2 separate regions of the Homo sapiens genome follow, and region 2 is linked to region 1. The links come from fine-mapping of genetic effects on gene expression. Tissue or cell type: whole blood. Region 1 holds a variant in brackets; the other region holds the start of a gene. All regions are shown on one strand. Distances are from middle to middle.

Region 1 (7,493 bases):
TCTGTTACAGGGCAGCCCTGCCCGCTGGAGTGAGCCCTGGGTGCCGGTTGAAGCCCTGCCCCCATCTCCCCTTGAGCTGAGCAGGGTGGGGAACATCTTGCACAGGCTGCAGACCACCTTCCAAGAAGCCCTCGACCTTTACCGTGTGGTGAGCTAAGCCCCAGAGTTGGGAAAGGGTTGAGGGGTCTCTTGAGACCGCCCGGCCTTGGTGGCCCCTGACAAGGCTGGCATCCCTTGCAGTTGGTCTCCAGTGGCCAGGTGGACACCGGGCAGCAGCAGGCACGGACTGAGCTGGTCTCCACCTTCCTGTGGATCCACAGCCAGCTGGAGGCTGAATGCCTGGTGGGGACTAGTGTGGCCCCAGCCCAGGCTCTGCCCAGCCCAGGACCCCCGTCCCCACCGACGCTGTACCCCCTGGCCAGCCCAGACCTGCAGGCCCTGCTGGAACACTACTCGGAGCTGCTGGTGCAGGCCGTGCGGAGGAAGGCACGGGGGCACTGAGGGCGCAGCCCCTCCACCGCAGCCCTGCTGCTTCTGAGGACTTAGGTATTTTAAGCGAATAAACTGACAGCTTTGAGGAATGGTTCCTGGTGTCTGTTTGGGCCTATCCACAAAGCCCTCTTCAAGTGGAAGTGGGGAGGGAGGGTAGAAGGTGATGCCCAGAGGACTCGTGTCTGTCAGTGGAGAGCATGGGACCAGCGCTCCCAAGAAGTTCAGGAACTGCAGCCATGACCTCAGGGCCAGTCCTCCCACACTGCCCACAGAGCTGCCACAGACCAGTGTGAGGTGCTTACCCAGTGGGGCCCATTTGTGCCCCAGGGAGGAGCCAGACCCTCTTACCTGCCCCCTGCCAGTGCCTGAGAACTCACTGGGGCTGCTGTGATCACCATGTGCCTACCTTGCCCAGCAGTCCACGCTTTGCCATATCATGGCTCAGGGCCTCTGGGCCAAGGCCACACTAGATCCCACAAAGTCCACGGTGGTGGTGTCCCCATCTGCAACAGGGGAAACTGAGGACCCATGAACAGGCTTGCCCAAGCTGGGTATGGTGGCCTGCACCTATAATCCCGGCTACTCAGGAGGCTGAGGTGGGAGGATCGCTTGAGGCCAGGAGTTTGAGACCAGCCTGGGCAACTTGGTGAAACCCCATCTCTTTATTTCATGTATTTATTTATTTATTTTTGTTTTTGAGATGGAATCTTGCTGTGTCATCCAGGCTAGAGTGCAGTGGTGCGATCTTGGCTCACTGCAACCTCCGCCTCCCGGGTTCAAGCGATTCTCCTGCCTCAGCCTCCCGAGTAGCTGGGATTACAGGCACCCACCACCATACTCAGCTGATTTTTGTATTTTTAGTAGAGACGGGGTTTTGCCATGTTGGCCAGGCTGGTCTCAAACTCCTGACCTTGGGAGATCCGCCCACCTCGGCCTCCCAAAGTGCTGGGATTACAGGCATGAGCCACCGCACCTGGCCAAAACCCCGTCTCTTTAAATAAAACAAAATAAAACAAGAAACCCAGGCAGGCTTGCCCACTGTATGATCCTGGCAGCAGGCCCAGGCCACGAGCAGCTGGGACCAATAACTGCTTCCCCTTCAGAAGTTCTACATTCCACGAGCTCCCAGCACTGCTACCAGCTCCCCCAGACAGCAGGCATCTGGCCACATGGGGTGTCTGCTAAAAAAGCCACTCTTGGCTGGGGTGTGGTGGTGCACACCTGTAGTCCCAGCTACTCAGGAGGTTGAGGCAGGAGAATCGCTCAAACCCAGGAGGCAGAGGTTTCAGTGAGCTGAGATCACACCATCATTGTACTTCAGCCTGGGTGACACAGCAAGTCTCAAAAAAAAAAAAAAAAAAAATCCTGCCAGTTCCCACCCAGGTGCCGGGCACTGTAGCAGAAGGAACATCAGGCAACGCACCTGCCCTCATGGCCACTCACCTTCTATACAGTCAAACAGATGCAGGAATTAGAGCTCTGTATAATTCTAGATAGGTTGGGGAGATCCATTGCTGGTGAAGGGTCAGGGAAGGCCTTTCGAGGTGACATTTGGGCTGAAGCTTGATAGAGGACATCTCAGGAACACATCCAGGCCGACAGCACAGCCAGTGCACAGGCCTGGGGCAGCCACACGTGATCTGTGTGGAAGCAAGAGGAGCGAAGCCCGGACGGCTGGAATGGAGTGAGCAAGGGGAGGGCAGGAGCTGAGGTGCAAGGAGGAGCAGGGCCTTGTTGCTTCATAACATTTAAGTCCAAGGAATATCCAGAACAGTTTTTTGTTTTTGGGTTTGTTTCTAAATCTCTGCTCTTAATGTTTGGGGGATATCCAGTGTTGCTTATTTCTCACGACTCTGCCTCAGGGAGTCCAGGTGGTCCAGAACTTGAACCACCTGCCTAGGCCTAGGCCCATCTGCCTAGTTCGGCCACCATTGCCCAAAACCTTGCCCAACATCCCTGGGCAAAGCTTGGTGTTCAGCCCCCCAGGCCTCGGACACCCAGGAGACCACCTTGGGCCTCTGTCATGCATGGAATTACCCTTCCTTCCAACCTGTATCATAGTAAAGTCTTCTGCTCCAAGGAGTAAACACCTGGCTTTCAGGGCCCAAGATGGAGGGACGTTGGTTACCCTTGATGTCATCATGCACCTGGCCTCTTCCTCTCCTGCTCTGTTATCCTCTGTGAGCAAGCTTCAGTCTCCAGCTTATGGCCTCATGGTTGCAACACGGCTGCTGTGGCACCCAGCAGCACACCCTCAGGTGGTGTCTCCATTTTGCAATTGTTGGCTTTCCTGCAGCCCTGACTGAAGTGCCTGGCA[T/C]AAGCCTGGAAGCGCAGGAGCTAGAAGCTGCCCCGATAGTACTGCTATGGGGAGGCTGAGGTTAGATGTGGAGTGCAGGGGGCTCACAGAGGGTGACAGCAGGAGAGGAAGAGGCCAGGTGCACAATGACATGAGGGTCAGAGGCCCAAGTTATTGGTCCCAGCTGCTGGGTGGCCTGGTCCAACCAGGAGCAAAGGCACAGAGCAGGGCACCCTCTAGGGCAGCAGAAAAGATGCAGATCTCTCCCAGGGGTCTCCCTGGGAGACTCATCTGGGGTCAGATGAGTCCCAGGCAACAGGAATGGAGATTGCTTTGATGTGCTTGGACCATCTCTCCTGTCCTGGGCATGTTGCAGCTCAAACAAAGAGGTTCTCTCAATAAGAAAGGCAAGTGGGCTGGTAATCAGAGAGGATCCAGCATGTCTGCCACTTCCCTCTTCCAAATGCCAGGCTCTGTCCTGGAAGGACCATACTTTCTCCATACTTCTTAACCAGGATAAACCACCTGGTTAAGAAGCCACTGCTGGTGGTGCAGCATGTGTGCATGTGGTTTGTGAGCTGACAGGGTCCCAGCAGAAAGATGACAGCATGCTTAGATGGGATATTCCAAAGAGTTTAACCAAGGGATCATTTGCAAAGGAGCAGCAGGGACTGGGAAACCACCGAGGCTGGTGCAGAACCCCAGGACTGGCACCCTGGGAGCTGTTACCACCCCCAGGCCACAAGGCACAAAGAGAAGGAACAAGAACCCAAAAGAGCAAATCCCAGGGAGAGGGTAGTGCTGAGGGAGCTGCAGCCCTGACTCCCACACAGGACGGAGTGAGAATCAACACCCTGACCTTACTCCCCTCCTGCAGGGCACCCCATTGTCCAAATCCTACTGGAAGCCAGAGTGCATAGAAGCCCAGGTGACCCCGCCTCCAGTCAACCTCCTAGGCCATGGAGCAGGGCAGAACAGGACTGAGAGGGTTCCTGGGGAACTGGGTCCCTGGAAGGAAAACAGTTCATCTTTCACTGCAACTCCCCCCCTGCTTCTACCCCCACATCTACCCTTGGCCTCCCCATAGCAGTACCATCAGGACAGCTCCTGGGTCCTGAGCTGCCAGGCCCGTGCCAGGCATCCCAGTCAGGGCTGCAGGAAAGCCAACAATTGCAAAATGGAGACACCACCTGAAACCCCATTTTGCAGATGACCCACCTGAGGCCTGGATGTTTGCCCAGAGGAGGGATTCCTCGGCAGGATGCAGTGGCTCATTCCTGTAATCCCAACACTTTGGGAGGCCAAGGCAGGCAGACGGTTTGAGCTCAGGAGTTCAAAACCAGCCCTAGGCAACATAGCAAGACTCCACCTCTACAAAAAATTTTAAAATTAGCTAGGTGTGGTGGTGCACGCCTGTAGTCCCAGCTACTTGGGAGGTTGATGTGGGAGGATCACTTGAGCCCAGGAGCTTGAGGCTACAGTGAGCTGTGTTCACTCCACTGCACTCCAGCCTAGGTGACAAAGCAAGGCCCTGTCTCAAAAAAAAAAAAAAAAAAAAACCTTCCTAACCAATCCCTGCTTATATGTCTGCCACATGCCAGGCCCCATGCTAAGCATTCTCTCCATGTGAGCTACATGGATCTTCAATACAAACTGGGAAGAGGGAGATTCCTTAGTCTCATTTTCCAGGTGAAGAAACCGAGGCCCAATGAGAAATGACTTGCTCTGGGTCCTGCAGAGAGCAAGCGGAAATGCATGGCCAGCAGACCCTCAGCACTGCCACCCTTGCTTCCCCAAATGAATTGGCACAACTGACTCTCGGGCAATGTAAAGAAATGAAGAAATACTCCTCTCACCAGCAAGCCTTGTACAGATGTCCCCCTCTGACTAGAACACCCTCCCCTTTCATCTGAAACCTTTCAGCGCTTATCCAGGAAGCCATCCCTGTACCCGTAGCCTGGATCAGGAGCCTGTTCGGGTCCCCAGGTACCCCTCTTTTCCCCATCATGGCTGGGTCTCTGCCTCACTTGCCTCTCACTGTCTTGGTCATTCTGGGCTGTCACTGGTGTGCCTCCTTCATGGACTTACGCGATCATTTTCAGTAAGCTAGGTCTGGAGCTTAGAAAATTGTTTAGTTGCCAGGCGCAATGGCTCACGCCTGTAATCCCAGCACTTTGGGAGGTTGAGGCAGGTGGATCACTCGAGGTCAGGAGTTTGAGACCAGCCTGCCCAACATGGTGAAACCCTATCTCTACTAAAAATACAAAAATTAGCCGGGTGTGGTGGTGCGCACCTGTAGTCCCAGCTACTTGGGGGACTGAGGCAGCAGAATCGCTTGAACCCAGGAGACGGAGGCTGCAGTGTGTGGAGATCGTACCACTGCACTCCAGCCTGGGCAACAGAGTGAGAATCTGTCTCAAAAAACAAAACAAAACAAAACAAAAAAAATAAAAACAGGTTGGGCGCGGTGGCTCACGCCTGTAATCCCAGCACTTTGGGAGGCTGAGCCGGGCGGATCACCTGCATTTAGGAGTTTGAGACCAGCCTGGCCAACATGGTGAAACCCCATCTCTACAAAAAACACAAAAAATCAGCTGGGTGCAGTGGTGTGCCCCTGTAATCCCAGCTACTTGGAAGGCTGAGGCAGGAGACTCACTTGAACCCAGGAGGCGGAGGTCATAGAGGAGCCAAGATCACGCCATTGCACTCCAGCCTGGGCAACGAGCAAAACTCCGCCTCAAAAAAAAAAAATTAAAAAACAGAGCTTGGATTGCTTCTTAGTCTTCTGGCTAAGAATCAAGTGTAAAACAGCTTGGCCAGTGTGCCGGGGTAGGGTCCTGGGAGCCCCTGGCTGTGTCAAGAGACCCCCTTTGGGCCAGGTGCGGTGGCTCATGCCTGTAATCCCAGCACTTTGGGAGGCCAAGGCAGGCGGATCACTTGACGTCAGGAGTTCAAGACTAGCCTGGCCAACATGGTGAAACTCTGTCTCTACCAAAAATACAAAAATTAGCCCGGTGTGGTGGTGCATGCCTGTAGTCCCAGCTACTCAGGAGGCTGAGGCAGGAGAATCGTTTGAACCCGGGAGGTGGAGGTTCCAGTGAGCCAAGATGGTGCCACTGCACTCCAGCCTGGGCAACAAGAGTGAAACTCCGTCTCAAAAAAAGAAAAAAAAATAGGAGACCCCCTTTTACTTTCCAGACTGTGGGAGGGAGGAAGAGTGTTGTCCCAGGCAGTAACTAGGGGCTAGATTATTAACAAACTAGTATTTTAGTGCCTGCTACACCTGAACAGTGCTTCTGGCTGAATGTTAGCCCTGGGAATCTGAAGATCAGAGAGGTGGGGCATCCTACCTGAGGATGCACAGCCTGGATCCTCATTTTGCCCTGATTTATCCAGATCTGCTGTCCTCCCTGCACCCTACAGAGCAGGGCAATCACAGCAGGGGGCCCCTTCAGTGTCCTCAGACAGCTGCTGTGATTTGAATAACCAGGCAGGCTGCTGGATGTCCCCTGGTGACTGATTTGCCTGGCAAACAGACCCTCAACCCCTGGGAGACAGTCCCCCTGGGGCCTTGTTTCTTCTTCCTATCCTCAAAAGCTCCCCAGGCCCATCTCCCCTTGCCTGGCTCTGCTTGGTGGTCCTAGTGCTTGTCCACCCCTGGAGGCTGGATGGTTCCCTCCAAAACCTGGGAGAAGATGGGCAGGTCCCCAGGCAGGGGTAACCTGAGCCAGCTTAGTCCACTCCCAGGGCCAGCCAGGAAATTTGCATGAAGAGAATGAGGTTCCTCAGAGGCTTCCCCTCCTTTCCCACCAGGGATAGTCATCCTGGGGCTGAGGTCTGACAGCAGGTGGAAGCAGCCCCTGTGTGTGGAGAGCCTTCCGGAGGGCATGCCCCGCGCCTTCCTGGTCAGGAGTCGGCGTCCACAGCCCCCCAACTGGGGCCATCTGCCTGACCAGCTCCGGGGAGATGCCTATATCCCAGGTGGGCCCCTCACTGTGCCTGGAGGTAAGGGGCAGGAGAGACGCAGTGTCACCATCTGGCTTTTCTCCTCAGACTGCAGCAGCCTGGGGGGGCCACCGGCACAACAGTCGTCCAGTGTCAGGGATCCGTGGACAGCGGTGAGTGTGTAACTGGCTAGCAAAGCCAGCTGTTTCGCTCCTGCCTGCTCTCAGCCTTAATGAAGCTGACAGCCCCTTGCTCCCCCGACCCATCTGCACACGCCCTCCAGCCTCGGGACCTGTCCGCCCCTACTTCTCTGTGTTGGGAATGCCTCTCCTTTCCTAGTAGTGAGCTCTCTACTGTTAGGTCTCACCCCAGGCACCAGGGCCGGCAGCCACAGGGATCTCTTCCAGCGGGGCACAAGATTCATCCCCACATGTGGATGATCCGCTTTATGTCAGAACATGGGACAAGGCAACAGGAGTGCGATGGGAGATAAGGGCTTTTTCAGCTGTGCATGCATTGGAGGAAGGAAAGCGCCAGCCGGAATGTAATATATTCATGAAAGCAAGGCACTGTTCTAGGCATGGGCTGTTATATTCAGCGGGAATAAGACAAAAATCCACAATTTTATGGAGCTTATATTCTGGTTGGGGCTGCATGTATAGACAATAAAATTAGTCAGCCTGTAATTCCAGCACTTTGGGAGGCCGAGGCGGGTGAATCACTTGAGGTCATGAGTTCGAGACCAGGCTGGCCAACATGT
Region 2 (6,247 bases), 74 kb before region 1:
CTCAGGGCCTTTGCACTTGCTGCTGTCTGCCTGGAACACTCTTTTTCCAGCTCTCTTATGGCTGATTCCTCCCCATGCTCTGGGTCCCAAACTAAATGTTACCTACTCAGAAAGAGCAGCCCTGACTACCCCTGCAGGTAGCTGCCCCCTAGTCATTATCGTATCTCCACCTTTAATTTCTTTTTCTTTTTTCTTTTTTTCTTTTCTTTTTTTTTTTTTTCTTTTTTTTTTTTTTTTTTGAGACAGTCTTACTCTGTCACTCAGGCTGGAGTGTAGTGGCTCGATCTTGGGCAACCTCTGCCTCCCAGGTTCAAGCGATTCTACTGCCTCAGCCTCCCGAGTGGCTGGGATTACAGACATATGCCACTATACCCAGCCAATTTTTGTATTTTTAGTAGAGATGGGGTTTCACCATGTTGGCCATGGCTGGTCTCAAACTCCTGACCTCAGGTGATCCGCTGGCCTCAGCCTCCCAAAGTGCTGGGATTACAGGCGTGAGACACCATGCCCAGCCCACCTTTTCTTTCTTTCATAGCACTTGCTCCAATCTGAATTTATCTGATTTCTGATTTATTTATCTGTTCACTTGTTTAGTCTCTCCTTCTCTCCTGCAAGGGAGGATCATGCCTGGATCACTTAGGATTAAATCTCCGGCACCCAGCATAAGGCTTGTCACAGAGTAGCAGCACTCGATAAATATCGCTCGGTCAATGATTAGACACTTTCAGTTTCTCCAAGAGGCCGCCCTCTCAGCTCCATACCCTCCTACCTCAGATCCTTTACCCAGCGGTTACCTCTCCTGGGAGCCCTTTCCCCTGACCCTTCTCTTAGTTAACCCCAACTCACCCTCCAGTCTTCTCAACTGTAACCTCCTCAGGGAAACAATGTCTTAAAAAACTCTTGCAGCAGCTTGTTTATGGTAAATACAATTTTCATAATGTCTTGTAATTACATATTTATATTACATTATATTTTTCTTTCTTGCATATAAACCTAAATGTGAAAAATTACATTATGGTTTAATACCTATTTGTGTGGCTGTTACTGAGGCCTGTGAGTTGTCTCAGGGCAAAGACTGGGTCTCTCTTGCCCCCTGCTGTGGCCCCAGCCCCTAGCATAAAGCCAGGTCCACAGCCGCTTTCAAAAAATGATTGTTGAATGACTAAATGATGGAATGATGTGTCATGAGTCAAAGACTAGGAGTATTACAATTCCATTCTCCAATGGGTGAATGAATGAATTAACGAGGGGTGCTCTGCAGCCAAGATTCCTCTGGACCACCTTCAAATTCCCCAGAATTCTCCCACCATCACCACCAGCAGAGCACAGCCCACCCTCCCCGGCCACCCAACGCTCCAGGCCAGATTCCAGGGTGGGGACAGTGGTTACCGTAGTCCTTAGGGAGGGGGGCAGGTGCCGAGGGGTGCACAACAGGCTTCTGCCGGCGCTCCTGGGTGGGGCTGGGGGCCTCGGGGACGGGTTCATCCTCCTCCTCCTCTTCTTCCTCCTCTCCTCGGGGTGGCGGGGCCATCGGGGCAGGATCTGTCTTAGTCATGGTCCTCGGTGGCCCTCGGGGGGCGGGTGCAGAGTTGGGGGCAGCCTTCAGGCAAATCCTGGAGGCAGAGGTCAGCTGGAGAGGGTGCCCGGCAGGCTCCAGGGTCCAAGCCCCTAGGAGCTTCCAGGGCCCCGGGTGGCCTCCGCGCAACTGGATCTTGGGCAACCATAGGGACCCCCGTTACCCATAGAGGGCCCCGGTGTGTGCGCCCAGCGCCTGCCACCTCCCCCAGGCCCAGCCCCCCATTCTTCTCCTCCCGCGTCAGGCCCCTCAGTCGCGGCTGCCCCCTCCCCGGGTTTGTTTATCTCGGGATTCAGGATGCTTCGCCCCTCCCCTTCTCCGCGGGCCGCCCCCTCCCCATCTTACCTCGGGCAGACAGCGCTGGGGACCAAAGTGGAGACTGGGGAGACTGTGGGAGCAATGGGGTGTCGGTGTCAGGGGACGTGATGGGGGAGGCAAGGGAGACAGAGAGAAGGGGACGAGGCCCAGACGCCGACAGGGGGTGGGGGCGGAGAGGGAGGGGCGCGACTGCGCATGCGCCTGCTGCCCCCCTACCGGCGGCGGGGGAGGAGGGACCAGGAGGAGGGACCGGGAGGCGCTCGCATTGATGGAGGGGCCAGAGGCGGCGACTGAAAGGGGAGAGCCTCCGGGCACTGGGAGAGGAAGAGATGGCTACGGAAAGGAGCGAGATGAGCAGATACAACGGCAAAAGAGAGGGCTGAGAGAGCGGACACAGATCTTCTCCATCCCCTTCCCCCACGCCTGCAAACCAGGCCGGTGAGGGCAGTGGTCTTGGGGCGTGGTGACGATGGGGACCCTCTAGGGGACCCTCTCTCTAGGACCCTAGACCGGACCCCTTCTCCAAGCTCACCATTCATAATGGGTGCCTCAGAGGGGTGATTTCCTAGAGACTCCTATCATGATCATCTCATCCTTACCATCATAATGCGAGGCTCACACACTGGGGCCCAGAGGTTAAGCAGCTTGCCCAAAAGTACATGAGTAGGTGATGGAGCGAACATTTGAAACCAGACAGTCTGTAAAGTCTGATTTTTATTTTTATTATTTCCTAGACAGGGTCTCACTCTGTCACCCAGGCTACTGTGCAGTGTTGTGATCTTGGCTCACTGCAGCGTCAAACTTCTGGGCTCAAGCCATCCTCCCACCTCAACCTCCCGAGTAGCCGAGACCACACGTGCATGCCACCATGTCTGGAGAATTTTTTTTGAGACAGGGTTTTGCCATGTTGCCCAGGCTGGTCTTGAACTCCTGACCTCAAGGGATCCTCCTGCCCCTGCCACCCAAAGCGCTGAGATTACAGGCACGAGTCACCATGCCCAGCTTTGATTCTTAATCACCATGCTACATGCCTGTAGCAGTGTCTGGGAAACAGATCTGCCGATTGACCCCTCCAACTCTCTCAGAACCTGTATCTTCCCCACGGAGGCCTCCTGAAGCCAGCCCAGGGTCCTGGCTCCATTGTCATGGCTTGGCTTCCCACCTGGAGCTGTAGCCTGCTCTGCCTCAAATCATCCCAGCCTGGATGGGGCTGGGTGACAGCCTTGAACACCTCATCCTTCTAATGCACAGGTCCAGTAGCTCCATCTCCAAAAGATTTCCAGGATCTCACTCTCCCCACCGCTACCCTGGGCCCTCATCTTGGTCCATCCTTCTTCTTCTGCCACCAGCACTACGGCAGCAGCCTCTTACCTGCTGTCCCCGTCCTCCTCCAACATGCAGCCACAGGGACCCATGAACACCTGTCACTTTGGAGCCCTCTTTCCCTCAGAGGGGTCTGCCTGCTGCACCTCACTCCAGGTAGAAGCCAAGGCTCTCAGCCATGGCCCACAAGGGCCTATGTGAACCTGCCCCATCATCTCTGCACTCACCTCCTCTCACCCTCTTTTGTTCACTCCACCCCAGCCACACTGGCCTCCTTGCTTCTCCCTACCCCAGGACCTTTGCACTGGCTCTTTTTTTTTTTTTTTTTTGAGATGGCAGTCTCACTGTTCCCCAGGCTGGAGTGGAGTGGCATGATCTCTGCTCACTGCAACCTCTGTCTTCCAGGTTCAAGTGATTCTCCTGCCTCAGCCTCCCGAGTAGCTGGGATTACAGGCCTGTGCCACCACACCCAGCTAATTTTTGTATTTTTAGTAGGGACGGGGTTTCGCCATGTTGGCCAGGCTGGTCTCAAACTCCTGACCTTAGGTTATCTGCCTGCCTCAGCTTCCCAAAGTGCTGGGACGACAGGCGTGAGCCACCGTGCCTGGCCTGCAACGGCTCTTTGTGATGCCCGGAATGCTCTTCCTCCAAATCCCTACGTGGCTCCCTCTCTGCCCTGTTTTAGGATCTTACTTGTTGGTGTCTTTTCACCTTCTCTGCTCTAAAACTGCACCCCTTCCTCCCTTCCCTACTATGGTTTTCTCCATAGCAACACCGCCTCCCAGACCTGACACATCCCAGACAGCAGGCCCTCACTGCAGGGGTTGTTCGTCCTCTGGAACCTGAGCCTGTAGCGCTCCAGGCCAGCCCCTTCTGATCACCCAGGTTTCTGCTAAAACATGGCCTTGGAGGGCCCTCCCCCAGGCCCAAACCAAATTTTTGTTGTCTTTATAGCACTCATCGCTCATGTCTGCAGTGTTCTTGTTTATTTGTTTACTAGTTCATCGTCTACTCAAGTAGAATGAGCACCATGAGGGCAGGGATTTTCTCAGCTGTGTCCACCATGGTATCATGAACTCAGTACCAGGCTTGGCAAAAAGCGTGGGACTCCTTAGAACCAGGTATGATTCTCCCAAACAACCCTTGCTCTGCTCTGAGGCTGTCGTACTGATTTGCAAAGATCTGAGCCGGGGGTGGCAGAAGCCTGGTACCCAGGGGATTGGGGGCTGATGAGAGACTTGGGCCCAGGTCACCCCTAAGGTTCAAGAGATCCCTAGGAGTGGGGTGGTAGAACCCAGGCCCTTGAGGGAGGCACTGCTACTACCCAGGCGTGGGCGGTGGGGCTGGGCCAAGCCCACGTATAATGTCTTTCCTCCTCCATCTTCTATCTTTTGTCCCTCGACATTGTCTGTCTTGATCCTTATGCACTGGGGATCCGAGTGTCCAGGAGCTCCGGCTTGGCATCCACTGTGGCAGGTGCAGGGTCCTGGGCAAGGACCATGGCTATGTCAGGCCCTCCACAGATGATGGTGAAGGTTTGGGATTCCTCAGGTCCAAGGGTCTGGGCTGTTGTCTAAGGCAAAGAAGTGGTAGAGATGGGGAACATTACGAAGCAAGTTGCGGGAGAGACAGACAGATAACGGTGAGGAACAGGGAGGCAAAGGTGGCAGGAGGGCGTGTCAGGAAACAGAGAGAGATGTGGGGAGAGATATGAGGAGACAGGAAAGCAGATGTGAGGGCCAGAGAGACATTCATGGGAAAGGAAAGAAGGGTGGGGAAATGGGAAGAGAAGTGCGGGGGCACAGACGCAGACACGTGGGGGAAAGAGATGTGCAGGCAGACAGACGTACAGACAGGGTCAGAGATATGGGGGAGACAGAAAATATGCAGATAAAGAGAGACACAGGGAGGTGGGGAAACAGGTGGCGGACAGAGATGATGGGCAGAAAGACAATGAATGTTGGGGAGGGAGGAGATTGGGAGGTAGGGATAGATGAGTAGGAGACAGAGATTGAATGACAGGAGGGGAGGCAGAGAGAGGCAGTCAGCTCAGGGGATCTGGCAGGCTCCACAAAGAGCCCCAGGCCCGAGTCTGAGCTCTGTCCCTGCCCCACTGTCCCTCTGTGCCCCAGGCCACAGTCTCAAACTTCAAGGCCCCAGAGGCAGCCACACTGTAGCTCCAGCCAACTGCTATCACCTGAGAATCCAAGCCCAGTGCTGCTAGATATGCAGAGCCTTCAGGAAAGACCAGACTTTTTTTTTTTTTTTTTTTTTGAGACAGAGTCTCACAGTGTCACCCAGGCTGGAGTGCAGTAGCACAATCACAGTTCATTAAAGCCTTGACCTTCTGGACTCAAGCAATACTCCCACTTCAGCCTCTCAAATAGCTAGAACTATAGGTGCAACACTTGGCTAATTTTTTGTGTTTCTTGTAGAGACAGGGTTTCACCATGTTGCCCAGTCTGGTCTCAAACTCCTGGGCTCAAGTCATCTACCTGCTTCAGCCTCCCAAAGTGCTGGGATTACAGGTGTGAGCCACTGCACTCGGCCATTATAAATTATTTTAAAGCACTGCGGAGGCCAAACAAATTGTATCTGTGGGTCATGTCCAAACCACTGACTATCAATCTGAGACTCCTGGCTGGGCATGGTGGCTCATACCTGTAATCCCAGCACTATAGGAGGCCGAGGTGGGCTGATTACCTGAGGTCAGGAGCTCAAGACCAGCCTGGCCAACATGGCAAAACCCCGTCTCTACTACAAACACAAAACTTAGCTGGGCATGGTGGCACGTGCCTGTAATCCCAGCTACTTGGGAGGCTGAGACAGGAGAATCGCTTGAACCAGAGAGGCAGAGGTTGCAGTGAGCTGAGATCGCACCACTCCACTCCAGCCTGGGCAACAGAGCAAGACTCCTTCTCAAAAAAAAAAAAAAAAAAAATCGGATACTCCTTAACTCCAGAGGTACTGTGGGGGCTCCTTCCTGAGCCCCTTCAGTGAGTCTAGCATTCAGAGCTCTGTGTGGGCATC

The links. PIP is the estimated chance that this variant, and not a neighbour inherited with it, causes the effect.
Region 2: CLIP3 starts here. The variant in region 1 is fine-mapped to the expression of CLIP3 in whole blood (INTERVAL, PIP above 0.99).

What each region holds. Positions count from the first base shown.
Region 1 is chr19:36,104,528-36,112,020 of GRCh38, forward strand. It overlaps WDR62 (WD repeat domain 62), which reads left to right. Exons shown (of 32, transcript NM_001083961.2): 31 at 1-148; 32 at 241-581. The coding sequence ends at 501. OVOL3 (ovo like zinc finger 3) reads left to right here and starts at 6,616. Exons shown (of 4, transcript NM_001302757.2): 1 at 6,616-6,769; 2 at 6,842-6,906. The coding sequence starts at 6,676. RefSeq lists enhancers at 6,215-6,845, 6,846-7,475. The variant T/C (reference allele first, on the strand shown) is at 2,810.
Region 2 is chr19:36,030,803-36,037,049 of GRCh38, forward strand. It overlaps CLIP3 (CAP-Gly domain containing linker protein 3), which reads right to left and starts at 2,071. Exons shown (of 14, transcript NM_015526.3): 1 at 1,922-2,071; 2 at 1,390-1,613. The coding sequence starts at 1,555. THAP8 (THAP domain containing 8) reads right to left here. Exons shown (of 4, transcript NM_152658.3): 4 at 4,182-4,790. The coding sequence ends at 4,638. All of the region lies in intron 3 of LOC101927572 (a long non-coding RNA gene), which reads left to right. RefSeq lists a silencer at 4,797-4,970.